3 linked regions of the Homo sapiens genome follow. The main gene of each other region encodes a partner of the protein of the gene in region 2 in a complex. Each region holds a gene or a part of one and is shown on either strand. Other genes may lie near its edges. The genes, in order: PRPF6, PRPF8 and LSM3.

The links.
Region 1: PRPF8 (region 2) and PRPF6 share a complex: the UniProt entries of both Homo sapiens proteins name them as parts of the U4/U6-U5 tri-snRNP complex.
Region 3: PRPF8 (region 2) and LSM3 share a complex: the UniProt entries of both Homo sapiens proteins name them as parts of the U4/U6-U5 tri-snRNP complex.

Annotation. Positions count from the first base shown.
Region 1 is NC_000020.11:64,001,511-64,005,160, forward strand, and holds part of PRPF6 (pre-mRNA-processing factor 6), read left to right. Parts: intron 1-3,650. UniProt on the Homo sapiens protein: Involved in pre-mRNA splicing as component of the U4/U6-U5 tri-snRNP complex, one of the building blocks of the spliceosome.
Region 2 is NC_000017.11:1,653,768-1,657,417, reverse strand, and holds part of PRPF8 (pre-mRNA-processing-splicing factor 8), read left to right. Parts: intron 1-656; coding exon 657-770; intron 771-852; coding exon 853-1,026; intron 1,027-1,874; coding exon 1,875-2,068; intron 2,069-3,401; coding exon 3,402-3,641; intron 3,642-3,650. UniProt on the Homo sapiens protein: Plays a role in pre-mRNA splicing as core component of precatalytic, catalytic and postcatalytic spliceosomal complexes, both of the predominant U2-type spliceosome and the minor U12-type spliceosome.
Region 3 is NC_000003.12:14,185,245-14,188,894, reverse strand, and holds part of LSM3 (U6 snRNA-associated Sm-like protein LSm3), read right to left. Parts: intron 1-3,650. UniProt on the Homo sapiens protein: Plays a role in pre-mRNA splicing as component of the U4/U6-U5 tri-snRNP complex that is involved in spliceosome assembly, and as component of the precatalytic spliceosome (spliceosome B complex).

The sequences.
Region 1 (3,650 bases), on a different chromosome or scaffold from region 2:
CTGGTCCAGGCTTCCCTCATCTGCAGGGTGAGAACAACGGTAGCTCAAAGCCTGTGTCCTGGGGCTCTGGAGATGGTCTGTGTGAAGAGCTGAGCCGGCACCTGGCACGTGCAGACCCGTTGTGGGTGTTACTCATTTTCTCTCCTGAGAAGGCACCAGAGCCACACGTTGATTGAACTCTTTCCTGCTGCTGACGAGGCTGTGCCTTCTGCTCCCGCGATGCAGCGTGTGCCGTCAGCTCAGGTCAGATAACGACAGACGGTGTGCCTACCAGGCAACCTGATTCCATCCAGGGATTCCTGCCAGGGTAGAGCTTTTGTGGGTAGTTTGTTTATTTTTATTACTGTGGATTCATAAAAGGAGCACTGTTTCTCCTGTCACTGGAAGTGTGTAGTAGATGCTGCTCTTGAACTGGGTCCAGAACGAGTGCTAGTCAGGGGGCTGTTCTGAAGCTAATCTGTGCAGGTGGCTTCTTTTTTTTCATTTTTTGTTTTTTTTTTCTGGTTTTTTTTTTTTTTTTTTTTTTGAGATGGAGTCTCGCCCTGTCGCCCAGGCTGGAGTGCAGTGGCGTGATCTCGGCTCACTGCAAGCTCCGCCTCCCGGGTTCACACCATTCTCCTGCCTCAGCCTCCTGAGTAGCTGGGACTACAGGCGCCTGCCACCACGCCTGGCTAATTTCTTTTTGTATTTTTAGTAGAGATGGGGTTTCACTGTGTTATCCAGGATGGTCTCGATCTCTTGGCCTTGTGATCTGCCTGCCTCGGCCTCCCAAAGTGCTGGGATTCCAGGCGTGAGCCACTGCACCTGGCCTATGCAGGTGGCTTCTATCCATTTTTTTTTTTTTAGACAGAGTCTCGCTTTGTCGCCCAGGCTGGAGTACAGGGGCACGATCTTGGCTCACTGCAGCCTCTGCCTCCCGGGTTCAAGTGATTCTCCTGCCTCAGCCTCCCGAGTAGCCGGGATTACAGGTGTGCGCCTCCATGCCTGGCCAATTTTTGTATTTTTAGTAGAGATGGGGTTTCCCCATGTTGGCCGGGCTGGTCTCAAACTCCTGACCACAAGTGATCCTCCTGCCTTGGCCTCCCAAAGTGCAGGGATTACAGGCGTGAGCCCCTGTGCCTGGCCTTTTCTTTTCTTTTTTTTTTTTTTTTGAGATGGAGTCTCACTTTGTCCCCCAGGCTGGAGTGCAATGGCACCATCTTGGCTCACTGCAACCTCCGCCTCCTGGGTTTAAGCAATCCTCTTGCCTCAGCCTTCTGAGGAGCTGGGACTACAGGCACCTGCCACCACGCCTGCTTAATTTTTGTATTTTTAGTAGAGACGGGGTTTCACTGTGTTGACCAGGCTGGTCTTGAACTTCTCACCTCAAGTGATCCACCCACCTCGACCTCCCAAAGTGCTGGGATTACAGGCGTGAGCCACTGTGCCCGGCCAGATTTTTTTTTTTTTTTTGAGACAGCGTCTTGCTCTGTCACCCAGGCTGGAGTGCAGTGGCACGATCTTGGCTCACTGCAGCCACCACCTCCCAGGCTCAGGCGATCCTCCCAGCTTAGCCTCCCAAGTAGCTGGGAGTATAGGTCCCACCCCCATGCCCAGCTATTTTTAATTTTTGGTAGAGATGGGATCTTGCTGTGTTGTCCAAGCTTGTCTCAAACTCCCATCCTCAAGTGATCCTCCTGCCTTGATCTCCCAGAGAGCTGGGATTACAGGCATCAGCCGTCGCATCCAGCCTATTCTTCCTGAATTTATAGCCTAGGAAAAATAAAGTGTATTTTATGGAATCAAGGGCAGTTTTCAGTGAGAGCTTTCCAGCTCTTGTTTTTCCAAATGTCTTTAAGCGAAATATCCCATTGAGGCTTCTGTGCTGATAGGACCGTGCAGATGAGGGCTCTTTGGTAGAAAGCCCCTTATCAAATATAGTTTCATTCACTTACTGTCTACGTCTGTTAGAAGACAGGTGAAGGCTGCTTGCCTGTGATGCATGTTCCCCCGACCCTGTGCACTCACATGTGAACGTGCTTTCCTCTGTCGAGGCTGGTTTCTTGACCGCAGCCCAGCTGCTCAGTGAATGCTCAGAGACAGCCTCTTTTATTTTTTTTTATTGAGACAGAGTCTCGCTCTGTCGCCCAGCCTGGAGTGCAGTGGCACGACCTCGGCTCTCTGCAAGCTCCGCCTCCCAGGTTCACGCCATTCTCCTGCCTCAGCCCCCCAAGTAGCTGGGACTACAGGCGCCCGCCACCAGGCCTGGCTAATTTTTTTTTGTATTTTTATTAGAGATGGGGTTTCACCATGTTAGCCAGGATGGTCTTGATCTCCTGACCTCATGATCCACCCGCCTCGGCCTCTCAAAGTGCTGGGATTACAGGCGTGAGCCACCGCGCCCGGCCAGAGACAGCGTCTTATAATGAGGTGGCCAGGAACAGAAAGTTAGCACCTGTCTGGGTTTGTAGAAATCAGTTTATCTTTTTTCAGCTAGGAAGAAATAGTTCTTTGATGAAGAGCCCATGAAAGTCTGGGTAATTAGTATTGTTTACTTAGAAAAGCTCTATTGAATTCTTCCTGCCACAGTTTGATGAATGATCATGAATGTCTTTGTGGCCACTCCCTGCTCACCACCAGATTGTCTGGGTTCATTTCCAGTTGGTTTGGATTTGGAGATGGGAGTATGCTGTTGGAGGCGGGGGCCTTCGGGGAGTGTTGAGGGACTGTGTTTCCACGGCTGTTCTCTCAGGGAGTGGCCTCCTGGCTGTGCTCTCTCAGGCAGAGAAGCTGGGCTAAGGTGGAATGAACCCAGGATCTCCAGGATGGCCTTTGCCGCTGCCCTAATACTGGTCCTGGCCTGCCCTTTCCCAAGAGTGTTTCCAAAAACTGTATTCTTTTCCTGGGGTGAAGCCCAGCACTGCTTCATTTGGTTATTAGCAAACACTTACACGTTGCTTGAAGGGTCTGGTTTTTGAAATTAAGATGACAGCTACTTCCACTGGTGACTTAGGACACCTGCCAGCCAGGGAGCCTGGCAGTGCATGGTCTCTGTGAGCTCTGGGTCGCTGTTGGGCTGAGCTGACACCTTAGTCCTTTGTTGGGAGAATGGGCGTTTTGGGTGCTGATCTTGAGACCTGAGGAGGCTGAGTAACCTTAGGCATGGTGCTTGGCCTCTGAGCTTCCATGTCTTCCTCTGTAAAAGGGAAGAGGGCTTTCAGGATTGGGGAGGGTGCAGCATGTGAGCTTCCTGGCCAGGGTGGGGTGTCCCACGTGCAGAGTCCCCTGGGGAGGCCCGACTGGCAGCTCCCCTACAATAATGCACTCACATGCTGTGTACTCCGCTAGTTAATGCAGATGTGTGGAAGTGGAGTTATTTTACACTAACGCCATATGCTCTGGCCTGTGAAGCGTGGCATCCTTCAGTGGCCGTCGCCAGCGTGTCCCTCTGGGGGCACAGGAATGGCACAGTTCAGGTTGAGGGTCTTCCCTGCAGTCACGTGACCCCCGGAGAGCATGTTGGCCTCTGCACGGTCACGTCTTCATGGCTGTGTCTAGCATTCAGAATACTCTTCTGTTCTAGGCCAACTTCAGGGGTGTGTGCTTCCTCCACTTCTGCTCATAAAGTCACACTCCTTGAAGGCCATTGTATCATGGTGTGCCATGTGGCT
Region 2 (3,650 bases):
CGCCTTGGCCTCTCAAAGTGCTGGGATTACAGGCTTGAGCCACCGTGCCCGGCCCAGCAACGCATATTCTTGAAACATCCACTTTGACCAAATCTCTTCTCTACCTCACAACTCTTGCTGAATTAACTCTTCTTTAGCTTCCTAGACGTTCAACATCTGGCTGGGCTGTATCTGTCCAGCCAGTTTCTCTTCCTTTACATTTATAGCATGTTTCATCTTACATTCAGTCCAGGATCTTAGTAGCCCAAACCCCTGATGCTCATCTCCAAATCTGTGTTTTGCTTGTATTTTTCTTTCTAGAATGAACTCCCCTCTTTGCTCTGTTAATCACAGTCCCTCCTTAAGACACGTTTTTTTGTGCAGCTTTTTTCTGATCCTAGTAGCCTTAATTTCTTTTGTTCCTGAACTCTGTAAAACAGTGTATAGTTTAGCACATACTCATGTGTCAGCTTGTGGTATTGTCTTGTTGAAAGGGGCTGTCAGCCTGGTCATTGGACACGGCCATTTGATACTCTTTGTACCTTCTAAGTGCCTAACATTTAACATCAGTGTTCAATAGAAACGTAGTTGGATTATTTCAAAACTAGGATATTCTGTTCTAGTTGATCTGGGAGGGTAGAGACTAAATTTCCATTTTCTTCTCTCTTGCTTTTAAGTTGGCTAAGTGGAAGACAGCTGAGGAGGTGGCCGCCCTGATCCGATCTCTGCCTGTGGAGGAGCAGCCCAAGCAGATCATTGTCACCAGGAAGGGCATGCTGGACCCACTGGAGGTAAGAGGGTGGGGTGGGGTAGGAGAAAAGAGACCTTGAGACCTTCAGGCTGTTTCTCATCTTGGACTTGATCTTGTCTTAGGTGCACTTACTGGACTTCCCCAATATTGTCATCAAAGGATCGGAGCTCCAACTCCCTTTCCAGGCGTGTCTCAAGGTGGAAAAATTCGGGGATCTCATCCTTAAAGCCACTGAGCCCCAGATGGTTCTCTTCAACCTCTATGACGACTGGCTCAAGACTATTTCATCTTACACGGTATGAACCTCGGGAAGAGAAGATCGCTGGAGGAGGAGCGGGTTTAGGGTTAGGAGAAGATCCTGTGTCAGGTTTTTGCCATTTTCACATTTTTAGCCTATAGATTGGGTGGGAACTCTGTTGACTTTCATGAGAGTTTAAGACCTTAAAGTTAAAAATCAACTCTTGGGGCCGGGCGTGGTGGCTCACGCCCGTAATCCCAGCACTTTGGGAGGCTGAGTTGGGTGAATCACCTGAGGTCAGGAGTTTGAGATCAGGCTGGCCAACATGACGAGACCCCATCTCTACTAAAAATACAACAAAATTAGCCGAGTGTGCTGGGATGCACCTGTAGTCCCAGCTACTCGGGAGGCTGAGGCACCAGAATCACTGGAACCCAGGAGGCAGAGGTTGCAGTGAGCCGAGATGGCACCATTGCACTCCAGCCTGGGCGACAGAGTAAGACTGTCTAAAAAAAAAAAAAAAAAGGCCGGGCGCAGTGGCTCACGCCTGTAATCCCAGCACTTTGGGAGGCCGAGGCGGCGGATCACGAGGTCAGGAGATTGAGACCATCCTGGCTAACACAGTGAAACCCCATCTCTACTAAAAATACAAAAAATTAGCCGGGCGTGGTGGCAGGTGCCTGTCATCCCAGCTATTCGGGAGGCTGAGGCAGGAGAATGGTATGAACCTGGGAGGCGGAGCTTGCAGTGAGCCGAGATCATGCCACTGCACTCCAGCCTGGGCGACAGAGCAAGACTCTGTCTCAAAAGAAAAAAAAAAAATTCTTGGGTTTCATGAAAGGTTAGGATTAAAGTGGGAGAGCCTCAAGCAGCTGACCTACCCCACTCTTCCAAATCTTTTCCCAGGCCTTCTCCCGTCTCATCCTGATTCTGCGTGCCCTACATGTGAACAACGATCGGGCAAAAGTGATCCTGAAGCCAGACAAGACTACTATTACAGAACCACACCACATCTGGCCCACTCTGACTGACGAAGAATGGATCAAGGTCGAGGTGCAGCTCAAGGATCTGATCTTGGCTGACTACGGCAAGAAAAACAAGTGAGCAGTGCTGGTGGGGACACAGACAGGAGGTCTATATACGGTTTTCTGGGGTTTTTTGGAAGCACTTAGGCTTAGAAGTTTCTCAAGAAGGCCAGGCGCGGTGGCTCATGCCTGTAATCCCAGCACTTTGGGAGGCCAAGGTGGGTAGATCATTTGAGGTCAGGAGTTTGAAACCATCCTGGCCAACGTGGTGAAACTCCGTCTCTACTAAAAATACAAAAGTTAGCCGGGTGCGATGGCGCCTACCTGTAATCCCAGCTACTCGGGAGGCTGAGGCAGGAGAATTGCTTGAACCTGGGGGCAGAGGTTGCAGTGAGCCGAGATCATGCCACTGCACTCCAGCCTGGGCGACAAGAGTGAGACTGTCTCCAAAAAAAAAAAAAAAAAAGACGTTTCTCAAGAAATTATCTTGTCTTAGCCAGGCTTGAGTGCTCATGCTAGTAATACCAGCACTTTGGGAGGCCAAGGTGGGAGGATTGCATGAGCCAGGAGTTGAAACCAGCCTGATCAACAAGAGACTGACGCCATCTCTACCAAAAAAAAAAAATTTAAAACAGGTGTGGTGGTACACGCTTGTAGTCCCAGCTTCTTGGAGGCTGAGGCAGGAGGCTTGCTTGAGCCCGGGGGTTTGAGGCTGCAGTGAGCCATGATGATGCCACTGTACTCCAGCCTGGGTAACAGAGCGAGACTCTTGTCTTGAAAACAAGGAAAGAAATTATCTTACAGAGTCTCGAGGAAGAGAGATACAGCAGTGTCTTCGAATAGTATGGGAAGCATCCCTGTTTTAGGGCTTCAGTCTGACTCTTGGCCATTGTTTCTCACTGTTGCCATTTCAAACAGGGCATTTCTTTACTGTCCATACATGGGAAGAATTTTGAACATCCGAGACCCTAAGTATCCGAGACTGCTGCCAACACACACACACACCTTCCTCCCCTCGTCTCCCTCCCTGTCATCGTGGCAACCAAAATTATCCATAGGGTGACGGACAATACCACCTCTGATTAAGAACCAGTATTCTAGGGTTTCTGGGGTTTCCATTTCTGAGAACAGTTCCATGCCAGAGCATTGTTTTGGTCAAGGAAGCGTAGGGTTTATGGATGCTAAACAGTGGGAAGGTGCACACGCAGTGTGCTGTCCCGCTTGGATCTGACGAATCTTGGAAGTGTTAGTGCACCTCCGTTTCACACTTCCTGTAGAAGCAGCTCTTGTGGATTGTCTGGGGCGTGAGTATAGGCTGTCCTGTCCTACCAAGTTACACCCTTTCCATTGAGGCAGAAGTGACCAAGGGGAAGGGATCCTTGTAATATAACCCACACCATCCCCACAGTGTGAACGTGGCATCACTGACACAATCAGAAATTCGAGACATCATCCTGGGTATGGAGATCTCGGCACCGTCACAGCAGCGGCAGCAGATCGCTGAGATCGAGAAGCAGACCAAGGAACAATCGCAGCTGACGGCAACACAGACTCGCACTGTCAACAAGCATGGCGATGAGATCATCACCTCCACCACCAGCAACTATGAGACCCAGACTTTCTCATCCAAGACTGAGTGGAGGGTCAGGTACTGTCG
Region 3 (3,650 bases), on a different chromosome or scaffold from region 2:
ACCACCAGGGCACGTGTATACCTTTGTAACAAAACTGCACGTTATGCACATGTAATCCAGAACTTAAAGTATAATTAAAAAAAAAGATAAAGATAAAATTATTTACAGCAGAATAGGTTTTACTAGCAAAATATTGGAAATGGCTATCTGTCCATCAACAGGAAAACAGTTAAATTATGGTACATCTACACAGTGAAGTACCATAAAGCTAAAAACGAAAGCACAAGGAAGCTATGTATGAAAGGGAAAGAGCACTGTGATAAAAAAACAGGGGAAGGGAGAATAACTAACACTCATTAGCATATGCATAAAGACACGAGAAGATTCTCAAGAAACCAGTAATAGTGCTTATGTCTGGGGGTGGGGTGTAAAGATGATGAACAGAGGCTGGAGTGGAAGACATTTTACTGCACTGTGTTCCTTTCTGCATTTTGTAATTTTAAGACTGTGTGAGTCTAGTATCTATTCAAAAAGTTAAATTAAAATGGAAGCAATTTAAAATGAGTAAGAAAAGAAATATGTGTTAAGTACTATACGGTGATATGGACCATATGGTCTCAGCATGGACCATAAAGAGTTAGTTATGTATGAGGGAGCAGGTCTAGAGCTGCTCTAATATGAGTGCCACTAGTCACAGGTGGCTCATTAAATTAAAATTAAATAAAATTAAATGTGCAGTTCCTTAATCACACCAGCATCCATTTGAAGTGCCAAATAGCCACATGTGGCTCATAGCTCCTGTAATGACAGCATAGATAGAAATTTTCACTGCTGCAGACAGTTCTATTATTACAGTGCTAATCTACAGAAAGGTCTAGAAGAGCCATCTGATGCTGTAGAAGGCCTTCGGGCAAGCAGAGGGAGCAGAGGGCTTAGTTACAAAAGGGCACAACGTCCCCAAGAGAAACTGTCTGGTGAGCCAAACTACGAGGTGTTTGGTGAAGGAAGGTAGTACACATGATGGACAGCCGAAAAAGTAGTCTGGGTCAAATAACACAGACTGTTCACAATCTGTAAAATGGAAACTCCAATTATGGAGGACCAAGAATCAGAAGAGTAAGACTGACTGCTTTCCACCTTCCCATTTATAAGTCAGCAGCCAAATTAATTATTTAGAAGTCAATTATGTAAGTTATAGGGGGAAAAAAACCCAACAACCTGATGGTTTATGGGTCCCCCATACTGTTTTGGTGGTAAAACGTTGATGTTCATTAGTTATTTCAATAGACGAGAGAGAGAGCGAAATGTAAAATGGGCCAAGGTAAGAAACCATTTAGTCTGGTTTCCCATCTTGGAGAGGAGTAACAAGAGCGCACAGGAGAGTGAAGTAGTTGTTCTCCATGGCACTGAACCAGATGCAGACACTCTCTATAATATCACTGTCTTTGCTTTCTATGTCTATAGTTAATACACATTTACACACTAAAGTATTCTCAGTCATCCAAAGATTCAATTTTAAATGTTTTACCCAATACATCATGGCAATGTGAAAAAGAACTCATTAACTAAATAGACTTTGCTTACTGTTCTCAGCTGCAACTCTAGGCGCAAGAGAGGCCACATGCACGCAGCACGCAGCGTTCAGGAGCTAACCAGCCCCAGTAGCCTTTCAAGGCAGCAATTAATCTTAATGGAGGTCAGTAACTACTGAGACTCTGTTACAGACACCCCACCCAGAGAAATGCACATGTGCACAGACACATAGCACCTTCAAACAGTGTCAGGAGGAACCGCACTTGGAGCAGACTACTAGGGATGACACAGGTGGACCCTGCTGTTAGTTCACTGCAAACATGGAGTAAGTGGCAGTGTTCCCTTCTCTGTAATAGACACCACAGTTGAAGAGTCATTTCTGTCACAAGCAGAATTCAAGACAAGAGCATTAAAATGCTTATGAAGAGTCTACTCTCATGGTAAAATTCTTATGTTAATGATGTTACATGAATAAAGCAGAATATTAAAGCCACATATTCCATATTTTATCACATTTAAGGTATCATTTGTAAGCTTAGTTGAGCTGAAAAAGGATAAATTTTGCCAATTAAACTATGACACAATTCTTTTTTTATCACATCACCTGTAAGATGCAATCAGATTTTTAAGATGCTAAAATTTAAGAAAAAGTGCATCTTAGTACTTATGATTGTGTCCATGTTAAGAAAACAATAACCACTAAACAATAGTTAATAAATGAAATTCCTAAAGGGGAAAAAATGCAGATTTTAAAAAATGCTATTCTTTCTTGGAGAAATAAGCCAGCAAAAATACATAAATAAATAAGTAAAAATTTTAAAAAAAGAAAAAAATGCTAAATGTTTACACTCAGAAGGAGAAAGAACACTAGCAAAGGAGTCAGGTGTGGTCAGAGAGAGGAGGAAAGCCAGGATAAAGCAGAACTACAAAATCCAGTGAAGGCTAACAGTTTAACAGTGACAACGTGCCTGTCACTATCTGAAGGCTTTTCATGTAGCCCTCAATGAATCCTCCACAGTTGTATGAAGTGGGTCCTATCATTACTCCCATTTTACAGACAAGGAAACATATCCACAGACAGGTTAGGTGAGCTGGCTCAATTAAAAAGGTGGTAAGCAAGGGAGTCAAAATTTGAATCCATGTAGTCTTGTACTCTGAGCCCACATTTTAACCACTATGCCCTGGCAGGGTCAGAAACTGTCTTTCCAAATCTTAAAGACCTTTCTTTCTGCTACGGCCTGGCATAGTGGCTCCCACCTGTAATTCCAGCACTTTGGGAGGCCAGGAGTTCGAGACCAGCCTGGCCAACATGGTGAAACCTGTCTTTACTAAAAACACAAAAATTAGCTGGGCGTGGTGGCACATGCCTGTAATCCCAGCTACTTTGGAGGCTGAGGCACGAGAATTGCTTGAACCTGGGAGGCGGAGGCTGCAGTGAGCTGAGACTGACATTGCACTCCAGCCTGGGTGACACAGTCAGACTGTCTTTAAAAAAAAAAAAAGACCTTTCTGACAAGATCACTGGTGATAACTAATAAATGTGATTTTTTTTAAACACTGAAGAAATAAAATGAATCTGCATAGCCCAGTGAACTACTATTTTCTAAAGAACCAGTGCCTGATGTAACCAAATCATGCATGAGTAAGAGATCCATTTGAGGTGCAAGGCAGATTAATGAATTTTCACCTAACAAGAGTACGAAAAGTTTACTGTTACCGTTTCAGATTCCAGATGGCAAATAATCTTTGACTGACTACCACTTGTTCAGTTTGGGTGTAGTATCAAAGGTAGAACATTCACAAAACAAACTCCTTCCTTTCCAACTACCTATCTGTGTGGTCAGATTTGCTTCAATTACAACAACAACTCATGATAGATTTAACGCAGAAAAAAGATATGAGAATCTTCTAGCTGTTATCGATTAAGCGGGGCATTAAAGAGATTTGCAAAAATGTAAAACAAAGACATTCCTCATTAAAATTTTGTTTTAGAAAATAGTTATTGTTCATAAAAATGTTACTTACAGTAACACGTGATAGGTTTTTTTTTGTTTTGTTTTGTTTTGTTTTGAGACAGAGTCTTACTCTGTCCCCCAGGCTGGAGTACAGTAGCACGATCTCAGCTTACCGCAACCTCTACCTCCCAGGTTCAAGTGATTCTCCTGCCTCAGCCTCCC